2 linked regions of the Homo sapiens genome follow. The protein of the gene in region 1 purifies or fractionates together with the protein of each later gene. This does not show direct contact. Each region holds a gene or a part of one and is shown in the gene's direction. Other genes may lie near its edges. The genes, in order: CBR3 and BTBD9.

What was found.
Region 2: the proteins of CBR3 (region 1) and BTBD9 purify together in Homo sapiens (affinity purification with mass spectrometry; 3 studies listed by BioGRID and IntAct, with this or other methods). This does not show direct contact.

The regions. Positions count from the first base shown.
Region 1 is NC_000021.9:36,131,000-36,138,130, forward strand, and holds the start of CBR3 (carbonyl reductase [NADPH] 3), read left to right. Parts: upstream 1-4,079; 5' UTR 4,080-4,193; coding exon 4,194-4,482; intron 4,483-6,825; coding exon 6,826-6,933; intron 6,934-7,131. UniProt on the Homo sapiens protein: Catalyzes the NADPH-dependent reduction of carbonyl compounds to their corresponding alcohols. Has low NADPH-dependent oxidoreductase activity.
Region 2 is NC_000006.12:38,167,681-38,174,929, reverse strand, and holds the end of BTBD9 (BTB/POZ domain-containing protein 9), read left to right. Parts: 3' UTR 1-6,479; downstream 6,480-7,249.

The DNA.
Region 1 (7,131 bases):
TCAGTAAATATCTAGCGGATCCTAGTAATCTCTTTGTGGTTTCTTCTGATTTCTGCCATTGGGGTCAAAGGTTCCGTCACAGTTACTATGATGAATCCCAGGGGGAGATTTGTAGATCCATTGAACATCTAGATAAAATGGGTATGAGTATTATAGAACAATTAGACCCTGTATCTTTTAGCAATTACTTGAAGAAATACCATAATACTATATGTGGAAGACATCCCATTGGGGTGTTATTAAATGCTATCACAGAGCTCCAGAAGAATGGAATGAATATGAGTTTTTCGTTTTTGAATTATGCCCAGTCGAGCCAGTGTAGAAACTGGCAAGACAGTTCAGTGAGTTATGCAGCTGGAGCACTCACGGTCCACTGAAGCTCTGAATCCTCAGGGATGCCACCTGCACATTCTCATACTCTGTCCGGGCTCCCAGCCTAGCCTTTACCACGATACTGGTCCTGGTTTGGGGGGATTCTGAAACCTCAAACTAATAGAACTTTCTTCTCTTTTTTTCTAGTAGGTGTAGTCCTTCCTTAATTTCAACTCATTAAAAAATGCTTTATAGTTTAGGGCAGTGGAAGGAAGGCTGGCATCAAAATATTTTGATCAAAAAAGATGACAATGTAAAGGCTCAGTTATGGCAGACAGTTTTTTGAAAGTAACTTGTAAAGCATTTACCATATCCTAAATTTGCACTCTTTGCAGACTTGTGCACATATATTCCGCTTTCAGAATAGTTTTGCAAATTGTACACAAACAAACAAAAAGGTGGAAGCTTTTTAATAAAGAAATTGCATTTATAAATGATCTGTATTAGAATATAATAAATCTCCAGTTATAGTCAATTACTACCCATGTTGTACAACAGATACCTTCTATTTTAGTTGCTAATAAAGGGCTACACAACTCAAAATAAATAAATAAATAAATAATTTAAAAAATAAATAAAAATAAACTGAATGAAATTGAAAACATATCAATGTGAGATGCCACTAAAGTCATACTAAAAGGGAATTTACACCACTTACTGCCTACATTAGAAAAGAAGTCTCAAATCAATGCAAATCAATGACTTCTGCCTTTACAGTAAGAAACCAGAAAAAGAGCAAATAAAATCCAGTAAGCAGAAGAAAGGAAACAAAGATCAGAACAGAAATTAATATAATCAGGAAAAGAGAGAGAGAGAGAATCATTGTAACCAGAAGTTTGAGGAAAATCAAATCAATTGGTAAACCTCTAGCCAGACAGATCAGAAAAAAACACGAAAGACACAAACCAGTCTCAGAAATGACAGGTAGCATCATTACCAACATTAAAAGGATAAGGGCATGTTAAAAGGATAAGGGTATCAATAGAATCAACACCTTAGATGAAATATATAAAAAATTTGAGCTCTTTCTCAGTGACCAGGGCCTGTGCTTAGGCATAGACGGGCAAGTGGAGCCAACATGCCAGCGGCCCAGAGCTGGGTTTGTTGCCAAACTTATGTGACCCTGCAGAGACCCTTCGAGAAACCTCATCTCGACCAAAAGCTAAAGCTGATTGGTGAGTATGGGCTCCAGAACAAATGTGAGGTCTGGAGGGTCAAATTTACCCTGGTCAAGATCCATAAGGCCGCCCGGGAGCTGCTGACGCTTGATGAGAAGGACCCACGGCGTCTGTTCGAAGGCATTGCCCTGCTGCAGTGGCTGGTCCGCACTGGGGTGCTGGATGAGGGCAAGATGAAGCTGGATTACATCCTGGGCCTGAAGATCAATGATTTCTTAGAGATTCCTACAGACCCAGGTCTTCAAGCTTGGCTTGGCTAAGTCCATCCGCCACGCTCATGTGCTGATTCAACAGTGTCATATCCGTGTCCGTGAGCAGGTGGTAAATATCCTGTTCTTCACTGTCCGCCTGGATTCCCAGAAGCACATTGACTTCTCCCTCTGCTTCCCTATTGGGGTGGCCAACCCCAGCCACGTGAAGAGGAAGAATGCCAGCAAGGGCCAGGGTGGGGCTGGAGCCAGAGATGACGAGGAGGAGGAATAAGCCTGCTTGTCCCCTCCTGGGCTGGTGGATTGTCTAGTTTTCCTGCCAAATGATAAAACAGGATCAATGCTTTATTTAAAAAAATAAAATTATGAAAAACAGAAATTAAGGTCACTCAAGAAGAACTAGGCCAGGCACGGTGACACAAGCCTGTAATACCAGCACTTTGAGAGGCCAAGGAGGGAGAATCGATGTAGCCCAGGAGTTCAACCAGTCTGAGCAACACAGTGAGACTCCCATCTCTAAAAACAAATAAAAATAAAATAAAATAAAAAATTATCCAGGCAGGCCGGGTGTGGTGGCTCACGCCTGTAATCCCAGCACTTTGGGAGGCCAAGGCGGGTGGATCACGAGGTCAGGAGTTCGAGACCAGCCTGGCCAACATGGTGAAACCCTGTATCTACTAAAAATACAAAAATTAGCTGGGTGTAGTGGCAGCGCCTGTAATCCCAGCTACTCAGGAGCCTGAGGCAGGAGAATCGTTGGAACCCAGGATTCGGAGGTTGCAGTGAGCCAAGATCGTGCCACTGCACTCCAGCCTGGGTGACAGAGCAAAACTCCGTCTCAAAAAAAAAAAAAAAAAAAAAATTATCCAGGCATGACTGTGGCACACTTGTAGTCCCAGCTACTAGGGAGGCTAAAGGGGAGGATCACCTGAGCTCAGGAGACTGACGCTACAGTGAGCCACGACTGCAGCACTGCACTCCAGCCTGGGCGACAGAGAAGACCCTATTAAAAAAAAAAAAAAAAAAAAAAAAAACAGAAATAGAAAGCCTAAATAGCCCCATATCCTTAAAACAAGGTTCCAAATGATCTTTTTTTTTTTTTTTGAAAAGTCTCACTCTGTTGCACAGGTTGGAGTGCAGTGGTGCAATCTCGGTTTACTGCAACCTCCGCCTCCCGGGTTCAAGCAGTTCTCCTGCCTCAGCCTCCTAAGTAGCTGGGATTACAGGCACGTGCCACCACACCCAGGTAATTTTTGTATTTTTAGTAGAGATGGGGGTTTCACCATGTTGGTCAGGCTGGTCTTGAACTCCTGACCGCGTAATCCACCCGCCTCAGCCTCCCAAAGTGCTGGGATTACAGGTGTGAGCCACCGCGCCCGGACCAAATGATCTTTAGGAGAAAAAAGAAGGAAATACTGGGGGAGGCACAGTAGGAGATCACAGCAGGGGCCCACCTCCGGAACCTCAAGTAAGGACTTGAGAGAGAAGGTAGAGTCAGAGTAACAGAGACACAGGCGGGTTAGCCAGCTCTGCATGGAAAAGGCTGAGTCGTGATGATGTCATGGTTCTCCCCAAATCTCAAAGTCACTGATCAAACAACTCAGTTTACACTGAAGACGATGGATGAGACTCTAATTTTGTGCCCACAGCTTGACACACCTTTGGGAATTTGGTTTAACTTTCTTTGCCGGTACACAGATCTGTGAGAACATATGATCAATCCAGATCTTTATAGATCTATATCCTCCCTGGACAAACCTAAATGCAGACACTTTTAGCACCCGTAGGAGTTAGGTAGGATTAAATAAAAACATTCCCTCCCACTTGGGGGCACATTCACTGGGAATCCCAGAGCGATGTCGCCTGCCCACACCTGCTAAGTGCGCTCACAGGGCATCTAGTTCCCTCTCTTGAGTTCCTTTTAAGCAAGCAAGGCAACCTATGTCCAGAGAAGCAGTTACTGTGTCTAAGTAAGTCACTGCATCTTAGGAAAAAGCAAACATTCGCATTTTGCAGTGCATGATGGGCGCACACCCAAGAAAATTACTCAGCACTTGTTTTTCTCACTTTGGGGTTTTCCCAAAATAATTTCTTCAGTCCAGTTGCCAAGAATCTGGAGCCCCCGACTGACCCATCAAGGTCCGATTTGGCTTCGGACACCTCGCAGATCACCCCGCGGCTCAGAGCCCGGATCCTGAAGGGCGCAGCGTGGGCAGGGGGCGGGCCCGGGAGTTGGAACAGAGGGCACAGACGGCCCCTCCTCGGAGGGGAGGGACCGGAGCCGGGGCCTTTTTCTTTAAGACTCGCAGCACTGGATCCCAGAACTTAGTCTGCGCGGCGGCATTGACACTAGCTGGGCTCCTCGGGGCGCGCCCCAGGTGGTCCGAAGCCCGGTCCGCCCTCCACGCAGGTGCCCCGCGCTCCCCGCTCAGCCATGTCGTCCTGCAGCCGCGTGGCGCTGGTGACCGGGGCCAACAGGGGCATCGGCTTGGCCATCGCGCGCGAACTGTGCCGACAGTTCTCTGGGGATGTGGTGCTCACCGCGCGGGACGTGGCGCGGGGCCAGGCGGCCGTGCAGCAGCTGCAGGCGGAGGGCCTGAGCCCGCGCTTCCACCAACTGGACATCGACGACTTGCAGAGCATCCGCGCCCTGCGCGACTTCCTGCGCAAGGAGTACGGGGGGCTCAACGTACTGGTCAACAACGCGGCCGTCGCCTTCAAGAGTAGGTGCAGGGCTTGGGTTGGGGCCCCCTGGAGCGCTCCGAGGGTGCGGAGGTGGCCAGCCGCAGGCTCCCCACCCGTCCACTTGAGTGACCGAGGAGGGTGGCGCCGACCCCTAGGGATGCGCTCAGCCCACGCCTCCCGCGAGGCGGTTTTCGCTTTCCGTGATTCGCTGAGCCCCAGGCGGGCCCGGGCGACAAACAGCGCGCCCCGCCCGCCGGCCTGTGAGGGCCTGTGCGCGGCCCGGGGCCCTCCCCGAACTGTCAGCCGCTGTTGTGTGCAGGAAAACTGGCCTCCTGGGAGGGGGCAACGCCCTGCTAGAGTTCATCAGCTTTCCTTCCAACGCGAGAAACATTTTCTCTGCAAAGAAACGGTCTCCGCTCGCTTTGGGCTTTCGCTTTCCTTGAAAGGGCGCATTCATAGATGCCCGGAGGCATTTGCTCGGGAAAGGAAATGAATCGCTAAAACAGGATTAGCGCGCGCTTGCCCTTGGTGGACTTGACAATTTGTGTAATGCAGAGCTTTGATAGGCTCTGGCAAAAAGGAAGCGAGCCTTCTCGTTCCCCCACCCCCGCCCGGGGAGCTTATGTTTGTTATAAAATACGTGCGTGTGGTCTTAAAAGCATCTTCCTTAAGGAGAGGGGCGGGGATCAAGAGATTGCTTATTCTAACTACTACTGAAGAAAATTACAGGAGGGCGCAGTGGCTCACGCCTGTAATGCCAGCACTTTGGGAGGCCGAGGCAGGAGAAACGCTTGAACCTGGGAGGCAGTGAGCCGAGATCGCGCCACTGCACTCCAGACTGGGAGACAGAGCGAGACTCCGTATGAAAAAAAAAAAAAAGTTACTACGGAGAAATAAACAGGCCGGCTTCACCTCCAACCTAGTGGGGAAAAAAAGCCTAAGAGGGAGTGAAATGAAGGATGGGGGAGCAGAAGTCTCCACCCCTCCCTTTGGCCCTAGGCACTCCGCATTGTTGTGCATGGGGACCTGAGACTTTCTTTGACCCGCACGGGCAACTCAGCCTGCCGGCTTTCTGAGAGCTGGGGTGCAGGAGTGGGGATTAACACCCCCTAATGCAGCCCTCAGCCATGGGCTGAGAGATTGGTGGATAAATACCCGGCTTCCTGGACGACAGGCGGAGGGACTTCCCCTTGCCTTTCAAGGTATGGGGAATGGACCACCAGCAGCTGCAAACCTGGGCGCTCATGGCAAGGCAGAATCTCCCGCCTTGCCCCACACCTGCTGAATCAAAATCTGCGTTTCCGCTGGGCGCGGTGGCTCATGCCTGTAATCCCAGCACTTTGGGAGGCTGAGGCAGGCAGATAACCTGAGGTCAGGAGTTCAAGACCAGCCCGGGAAACATGGTGAAACACCAACTCTACTAAAAATACAAAAATTAGCTGGGCATGGTGGCTCACTCCTGTAATCCCAGCTACTCGGGAGGCTCAGGCACAAGAACCGCTTGAACCCAGGAGGCAGAGGTTGCAGGAAGAGGAGATTGCACCCCTGCACTGCAGCCTGGGCGACAGAGCGAGACTCTGCCTCAAAAAAAAAAAAAAAAAAAAAAAAAAATCTGCATTTCAACAGAATCCCCAGCTCCCTCCTACGCACCTTTAAGTTTAAGAAGTGGTAGTCAAAGCCAAGTGTTCTCAAGGTGTGGCTGGAGACCAGTAGCTGTCACATCATCTGGGAACCTAGAAATGCAAACTCAGGCCAGGTGCGATGGCTCACGCCTGTAATCCCAGCACTTTGGGAAGCCGAGGCGGGTGGATCACATGAGGTCAGGAGTTGGGGACCAGCCTGGCCAACATGGCGAAACCCTGTCTCTGCAAAAAGTAAAAAAATTAGCTGGGTGTGGTGGCATGTGCCTGTAATCCCAGCTACTCCAGAGGCTGAGGCAGGAGAATCACTTGAACCCAGGAGGTGGAGGTTGCAGTGAGCCGAGATCGCGCCACTGCACTCCAGCCTGGGTGACAGAGGAAGAAAAGAAAGAGAAAGAAAGAAAGAAAAGAAAAGAAAGAAAGGAAGGAAGGAAGGAAGGAAGGAAGGAAGGAAGGAAGGAAGGAAGGAAGGAAGGAAAGAAAATGCAAATTCTGGAGCCCTTACTCCAGCCCTTTGCAATCAGAAACTCCAATGGTGAGGCCCAGGAAGCTGTGTTTTAACAGGCTCTACAAGTGATTCGGATGCAGACTAAAGTTTGAGAATCACCGACCTCGTTCTTAAAAATTGTTTTAAAATTAACTTGTTTTTCCTTTAGTTGTTAGGAGTTAGGATCCACTTTGTCATGTGAGTTTCAGGGGGAAAAATATGACTTTCTTTTTGTTTCTTTCTCTTTTTGAAAGGTGATGATCCAATGCCCTTTGACATTAAAGCTGAGATGACACTGAAGACAAATTTTTTTGCCACTAGAAACATGTGCAACGAGTTACTGCCGATAATGAAACCTCATGGTAAGCCCAACGTGTGGACAGTCGGGTTGCATCCCTCAGTAAGAAGTGGGCTACAGGCTTCCCGGAGCAGGGCTACCCTGCAGAAATCACTCAGGGGTGCTATTTCTCTGAAGGGGGAAAAATAGAAAATTGCTTCATTTTCCCACAGTGTTTGGCTTCTCACTCCAACATTTTAGTTTAGTTTAGTTTAGTTTAGTT
Region 2 (7,249 bases), on another chromosome or scaffold:
CTCCTCCCTGAGCAGGGGTCTCTGTTGACTGCCCCCACCTCTGCCCCTTTCCAGGGAGGAGCCGACCTAGCTGCAAAAGCAGACACCGAACAGGTTTTCTCCCAAGGACAGAAAGGGGCTGCTTTGTTCTTCTCAATTTATCCAAATCAGGCAGGTCTCAAGGGGGAGAAAATGGGTCTTCAATCTTCATCAAGTCCACCATTAACACCCTACCTCTCTAATCTAGCCCAGGCGCAGGGAACAGGAGGAAGTCATAGACAGGCCTGTGTTGGAATACAAAAATGGCACGCAAACACTCAGGCGGAGGAGAAAGCCATTGGGCCTTTGCTACCTGGAGGCACCCTTTAGGAATGGGCCTCCATAGAGTGTTCATTCTGCTGGAATACATTGCCCTGGCAACTAAATGATTTTTTATTTGTTTTAGTTATTCTCCACTCAGTGAATCATAGGTGTTCCGGATCTATTTGAAATGCTCAAACAGCAAATCACTAGTTTTAATCCCTTTTGATGCTATAATTTTCCTTCCTTGGTTTTGAACGGTTCAGCTTGCGGGGACAGAGACCCATCGTGCATGTCTCCTAAATGAGACACGGATGCAGCTCATCCTGGCACTTGGGCCACAGAGGAAGTGCCACAAATGCACACAAGCAAATCAACCTGTGGACACTGGAGTTAATAGTCACTCGTGTGGCTGAGTTACTCACCTGTCATTCCTGACATGGATCCAGCCTTTAAGCTTGGGAGGCTGACAAGGAAATAGTTACTATGCCCGCTGCTAATTCACTGTTCCGAAGTCCATGTAGATAAACATATACCGAGTTCTGGCGTGGCCAAACCTGCCGGGGACTGCCGTGGCTTAGCTGCCCCTCCAGTTGTGTTTATCGAAGCATTGGAGAGGCAGCCACCTGCCCATCAGCGTCAGGAACGCAGAACTGGGACTCCGTGCTTCCCCCACACCACAGTACTCAACTGGGGACTGAAAAATAGCAGTTCCAAGAAGCTTTTCTCCTAATCCTCATCAAAAGGACCTCATTTGACGATGGTGGCTTGATGTGGCTCCGTCTCCTACTTAGTGATTTCCATTCCAGTGCTGCCTGCCCTGGGTAACTGCGCACAACATTGCCTGCCCCTCCGCTGTCCCCAGAGCTCCGGCCTCTGTCGCCATCAGCATCAGCCTGGGAGTCTCCCCAGGACGGCATGGCACGTGAGCAGCACTGCAGTCCTTGGGTCTTCGGCGCCAACCTGCAACCCTGATCAAAGGAGGGTGAGGGCGTGGGAGTTTCCTTTCAGGTGTGTCAAAGACATATCAGCTGCGCTCTAGAAAGAGCCAACGGGTCAGCCGCTTCCTCCTAGTTTAACTTGATTTTGAGTGATTTGTCCATATGGAAATAGTAGGGTAGCATCAAACTGCGTGATTAAATTGGAAGACTGTCTTTCCGTGTGAACACAGGATGGCAGACATCAGAGGGCTACCGGGGCAGGGTGGACACGTTCCTGAGGAGAAGCCAGGGTCTGCAGCTCTCCATCCTCCCCGGTAGCTCCAGCTGCAGGGCTGAGCTGCTTCCTATCCCCTCAGCTCTGATCTCTGCCACTTCCCTGTTGTGTGGGAGAGTGGAACACTCCTGGGATGCCAGGCATTTCATAATGGGAGGAGGCTCCTGTAAGGAACGGTGGGCGCCCGCTCACAGTGGGGGGCCCTCCAGCATGGTTGCTGACTCTGTCAGCCCCCAGCCCCGGGTTGCCAATTAGCCAGAGAGCTCCTGCACACACAGCACTTCCTTCCCCAGTGTGTTTTCTACCCAGATGGGGACAAAGGAGCCAGACAGTCATATCAAGGGCAGAGTTCAAACATTTTGAAATGAGCCATTCACATGCTTCTTTTTAAACATGGGCATCACCTGCCCAGAGGCCCTTGGCCTGAAGCAGCATGCTGCTGACCTTGGGAAGAGAGGGTGGGCTGGTGGGGGTGCTGGAGGAGCTGCCCGGCCCTGCATCTGCAACCCTCCAGTCCCCTGCCCACAGAGCACGCAGAGCCCTCCTGTGCTCCGGGAACGAGATAGCAGCTTGGCAGCTCGGCCTCGCATCTGAAAAGGAATACGCTGCAAAGCCTCGGCCCTAGACCCACATCTGCAGCTCCCTGGCCTGTGGCGGTTCTTTCCTTCGGGGCATGCCCTTCCAGATCTCTGTCCCTCCTGTCTTCTAGCACTTTAAAGATGCCCCTTATCATCAGATAAAGAGAAGTATGGGGACGATGGGGTGGCACTAACAGTAGATGTCATTGGTGAGGACTGATGGCAAAGTCTCATTCCCTCACAGCCGCGCTGCCAGCTCGCCTCCCCCTCGCTTTGCTGGGAGCCTGCCCTGGACTCCAAAAGGACACGGGTTCACCTCCTTTCCCAGGCTGGAGGGGTACTGCCCTTCCCTGAGGGGCCTTCTGACTGGGGCAGGAACTCTTTTCGTGTGTCCAGCTGGGCCTGGAGGCCAAGTCAAGGTGTGTCACACCACACACCAGGGCAAGGACCTCATCTCCAGGGAACAGGGACAAGTGAGTGGCTACCAGAAAGTCCCCGGGCAGCCTGGAGTTCCCCAGAGCCTGGCTGGTCCTACAGAGCACTTCTCCCCTGGGCCACCAGGACCAAAGCGACCTAAACACTTGAAGCTAAAAGCAAGTGCTGATGATGGGATGGGCTGGCACGTGGCTGGGAGGGCTCCTGGGCACCACAGAGCCCTCAGCCCAGCAGAGAGTGGAGGCTCAGTCCGTGGGGAGCGGGGGTTGTGAAGGAGACATGGCCAAGCCCCTGGTCGGGGAGATAAGCTCCCCCATGCCCAGGCCAGCCCCAGGGGCAACAAGCCAACATGGAGAGAGGTGGCAGGTGAGGCTGACAGGTGGGTGCCTGTGGCCTGGGCCCATGAGGGCAATGGTCCTCAGTAACCAATGGAAAGGACACAAGGGCGCCATGGTCACCACCACCCAGGCAAAGAAATGGGAGGTGGCCAGCACCCCCACCCTTCACTTTTCATTATTATTATTATTATTATTATTATTATTTTTTTTTTTTTTTTTTTTTTTTTTTTTTTTTTTTGAGAGTAGAAAGGCAACTTCATTGGAGCTTTTGGGGAAAAAAGCCTTCAAAGTCACCTTCTGGCAGCTCTGGGGAGGGTCATTTGGGGTGGACTGAGAGTGTAGGGCAGGTAGGGTGTGTGCTGGGCAGCAGCTGTGTCCATGCAGCCAGCACCCAGCAGGGCAGTCTCACAGGAGCCGTTGTGAGCACTTTGGACTTGAAGCAGCTATGAACCACCCCCCGCCCCCACCGTCTCTCCCTCTCACACACACACACACACACACACACACACACACACACACACACACACACCCGTTTTACCATTTTCTCAGTGCTTTTTCTGCTTTCATTCCTTTGATTTTAGTTAGAAGCACAAGCCATGATGGATGTGGGACTCTTCTCAATTGCTCTTTAAATTGTCACTTTTTAAATCCTATTAAATGAAGTGTCGATTCCTGACAAATACATTAAAAGTGTTTTATTCCTAGAAGAGTTGGGAAAAGAAATTATTTTCAGCAAGAGTAGGATGTTTGTTAAACTGATTCCTTGGCAAAAAAGAGAAAAAAAGCTTTTGAATTGTGCAAAAAATTGCCCAGTATTATGCTGTCGCCCCAGTTGTCAAACTGCTGTGCAGATGGCTCCAGCCCAGTCAACTTCACCTTCTTTTTAATTTAGAAGATAACAAAATTGTAATCACTTATCCTTTCCAGAGCCAAGGGGGAAAAGGAAGGTATAATCTACAATAAAAAGCGAGCGTTCTGTGTACTGAGGCCACTTGGTGATAAAGAGATGGAGCGCTCCCCTCACAGACTTCAATTAAGAACCTCCCTTTGGACAGGGAAGAAAGGTGTCAAAGAGGAAAAGAAAATTAAATTTGCTTCCTTCCAGGAGTTTTTCCTCATTAGTGCTTGCTTGTCGGTGTTATTATTTTAATCTTACCTTCTATGTGGTGACCAGCTCCTCCGAGCGATGCCCAGGTCGGGCACGGCCCGGGCAGGGCAGGTCTGCAGCGATGCCGTGGCAGAGGTGGGCATACTCCATTTGTTTTGGCAGCTGCAGCCATTGATTCTGCATATTTTTCCTGACAACAGCCCCGGCAGGAGTTCAGTTAGGAATTTAAAGTGCAGTTCATGGTTCTGTGCCACCGTGGCTTTTATTATTATAATATTAAATTAGAAGTTGTCCTAGTGCCTGGTGTTTGCTCAGAGTTTCCAGAAGAGAGGGAAGGGCAAGGTTTAAATGGCATGCAGGACAACTGGAATGCCCCCATCTCTCTCGCTGACACGGATCCAGTCATACCTGGGGCTGGACGGGATTTGGAGGCCCTGGTCATTTGCAGAGTGAATGGTGAAGGGCGCGGAAAAGGTTTGCTTGGAGGAAAGACCGGTTGCAGAGGCGAGGCGGAGGGAGGAGGGGCGGAGGCAGCAGGTCTTTGTTTGTGGTAGGTCTCTGGCTTCCATCAGGGAGGAGGAAAGAGGCTGTGCCCTTCCTGGCTCTTGGCTGCACCACTGAGGACGCTCCGAGGGACAGCGTGCTCACCCATCCTTTGCACAGTGCTGGCCCCAAGCCCCACGGCCTTCCAGCTAGGATTTTCTGCTGGGCTCATGCAGAGGCAGGGGACAGGTGCATGGAAGAGCCGCCCCACCCGACACACCATTGTTTGAAAATCACTGTTCTCTTTACTCACTTAAAAAAGTGTACAGGGAACACCTGTTCCTGGCATAATGCTCCAACCTCGCGGAAGGGGCCAGGTGCCCTTCATCTGGCTCTGGCTGCTTCCGACCTGGGCCCACGTCATCGTTCACGTCCTCTGTGACCACCACTGGTCACGGTGCTCCCTGGCCCAGCCTCCAACCCACCCAGCACCCTGGCATCTCCCAGGCCAGTCTGCTGCACCCAGCGAGCTTCCAGTCAGAAGCCAGGCTGAACGGCCCTCCTGCCCCATCAGCTTCGTGTCTTCTTTTTTTTAAAGAACTGAAATAGTCCCCAAGAGGCCTCATGGCCTGAAGACTCACAATCATCCACCTGTAATTTATGATAAATGTCTGGGAGCATTTACCATTTGCGTCCGTGAGTATTTATAGCCCTGAATGGGCGGGGGGGAGGGGGGGTGGAGGAGGCCCTGCAGCCAGGAGCTACACACCTGTCCCCACTAGTGTCCCCTGGTTGACAGAGCCCCCTCAGCCTCCCCAAGGCTGTCACTGCGGCTGTGACAGCTGAGGAGTGCCGCCTTTGAAAGCCAGTGGACAGTCGCTCCACTAGGGGGAGAGGCCCTGGCCCTGGCGCAGAGGAGGCGTTGCGAGGCGGGACGGGGGCTGGAGGGGCTGAGCAGCCTTCAGGGCAGGGACTGGGCCCTGGGTCACTGGAGACGTTGATATTAGTCCGTCTGCTGCCAAATTGCTCCCCACCACATGAGCCCCAGGGGTTTATGTCCCAGGAAGGCGAGGGTGCCCATCTGAGCGGAATTGGGAGGGGACGGCACCAGCTCATCTCCCTCAGGGCCTTTGCCTCCTGGTGCTGCCCTGGTGGCTGCTCCTGCACCACAGCCCCTGATGGCTGCTGCTAGTCCTGAGTTGCTGGGTTTACCCCCAGCCCACACTTCCCACCTGGGCCTGAGGGTGCGGCCAGTGCCCTAGTCCTAGCCACTACAGGAGTCATTCTGAGACCTGCTGGAGGCCATGGGGTCTTCCCAGGCCCCTCAATCAGCTGCTTCCAGGGTCAGCAGGGCAGGGTGCTGCCAGTAAGGTCCTCAGGGAGCACAGCCCGGCCGCCCAGGCTGGGGGATACTGGGGCAGAGCTTCCAGGTCTGTGGGGCCTGATCTCTCCCCAAGGCTCTCCAGGCCTTGGTGCGCCCTCCACAGTGACCTTCAGAGAGGCTGCACCCCCTCAGAAGAACAGTGAGAAATCTCTCCATCACACGCTCCCTGGTCCTTATGTCCCTGAGGCCACCCTTCCCCACCCCCCAGTGCCTGGAGAAGCGTGAGACTCTGGAGGGGCGCCAGGAGGCCAGGGGTCCTCAGGGCTAGGCCTGGAGCTCGGCCCAAGAGCTGCTTTTGCGAAGCCTGTCTTGAATCCGGATTCACCAGAGAACAAGAGCCTCCCAGCCTTTGGCGTTTCTGGGCCTGTAAAGATGTGTGTACCTCCCAGGCCACTCTGATGCAAGGGCAGGGACCATGCCAGGCCTGGGTTGGGAATGGCTCTGTGACTCCAGAAGCTCCGTCTAAAACTCCAAAGATGCCCAAAAGGCTGTGCTGCTATGTGGAATGTGTATTATTTGTGAGCACGATGCGGCTTCTTCCTCATTTTGCAGAGCAACCTAAGCGGGCAGATGTACAAACCGTGTGTTCGAAACCCCTGAGTCCATGTGTGTGAAAATGCAGGTTTTCTCTTAGAAATAAAGTGGTGACTTGTGCTGTATTCGAGTCGTCACTCTCTGCAGCAACCCCTCTCGATGCCCAGGGACAAGCAGGGGGCCCAGGCCAGGGTCAGCCCCTCTGCCCCAGTGCCCTCATATGGACACTGCCATCCGGCCCTCTCTGCAGGCCCAGGCACTCAGGGGTGTCCACCCAGGCCCCCGCTCGCTTCCTCTGCCTTGTGGAGGGAGGCAGACAGCCCTGGAGCAAAGCAGGCACAGAGAGGCCGGCTTGCTCCAGGGCGGCGGCGTGGGCAGATCCAGCGGATTTGGGCCAGCACTGTCACCGGCTCTGAGGGCCTTCCCTCAGGGTGGAGGGGCTGTCCAGCTCCCTCCCACCTCCTGTGGCACTCTCTCCACCCCACCCCATGGCCTATTCGATGCCATTTTTGGGGGGTTAGGAAACACCACCTTGAACCCAGTCCCCTTCCCTTGTCATTTCTCCTCCTCTGAGCTTAGCCCCAGCTGCTTTCTTCCTCATGTCTTGCTTCTTCTACCTGATGAGCCCGTGAGTATTTGGTAGCAACTTCCCCCATTTATCTTGCTTCCCAGGGGAGATGCGGGGAAGGGAACCAGTGAGCCAGGAGGCGGCCCCTTGCAGGCGCTGCCGCTCTCCCTGGCCCCAATCTCGAGTCCTGGGTGTGTGAACTCAGTGTTGCAGGCCCTGCCGTCTGGGATCCAGTGCCCTCTCCTGTGACCCCACAACTGGGCCTGAGTCTCCAGCAACTCCGCTGGTGCATGTGGGGCCCAAGGCTCCATGCGCTGAACATGAGGG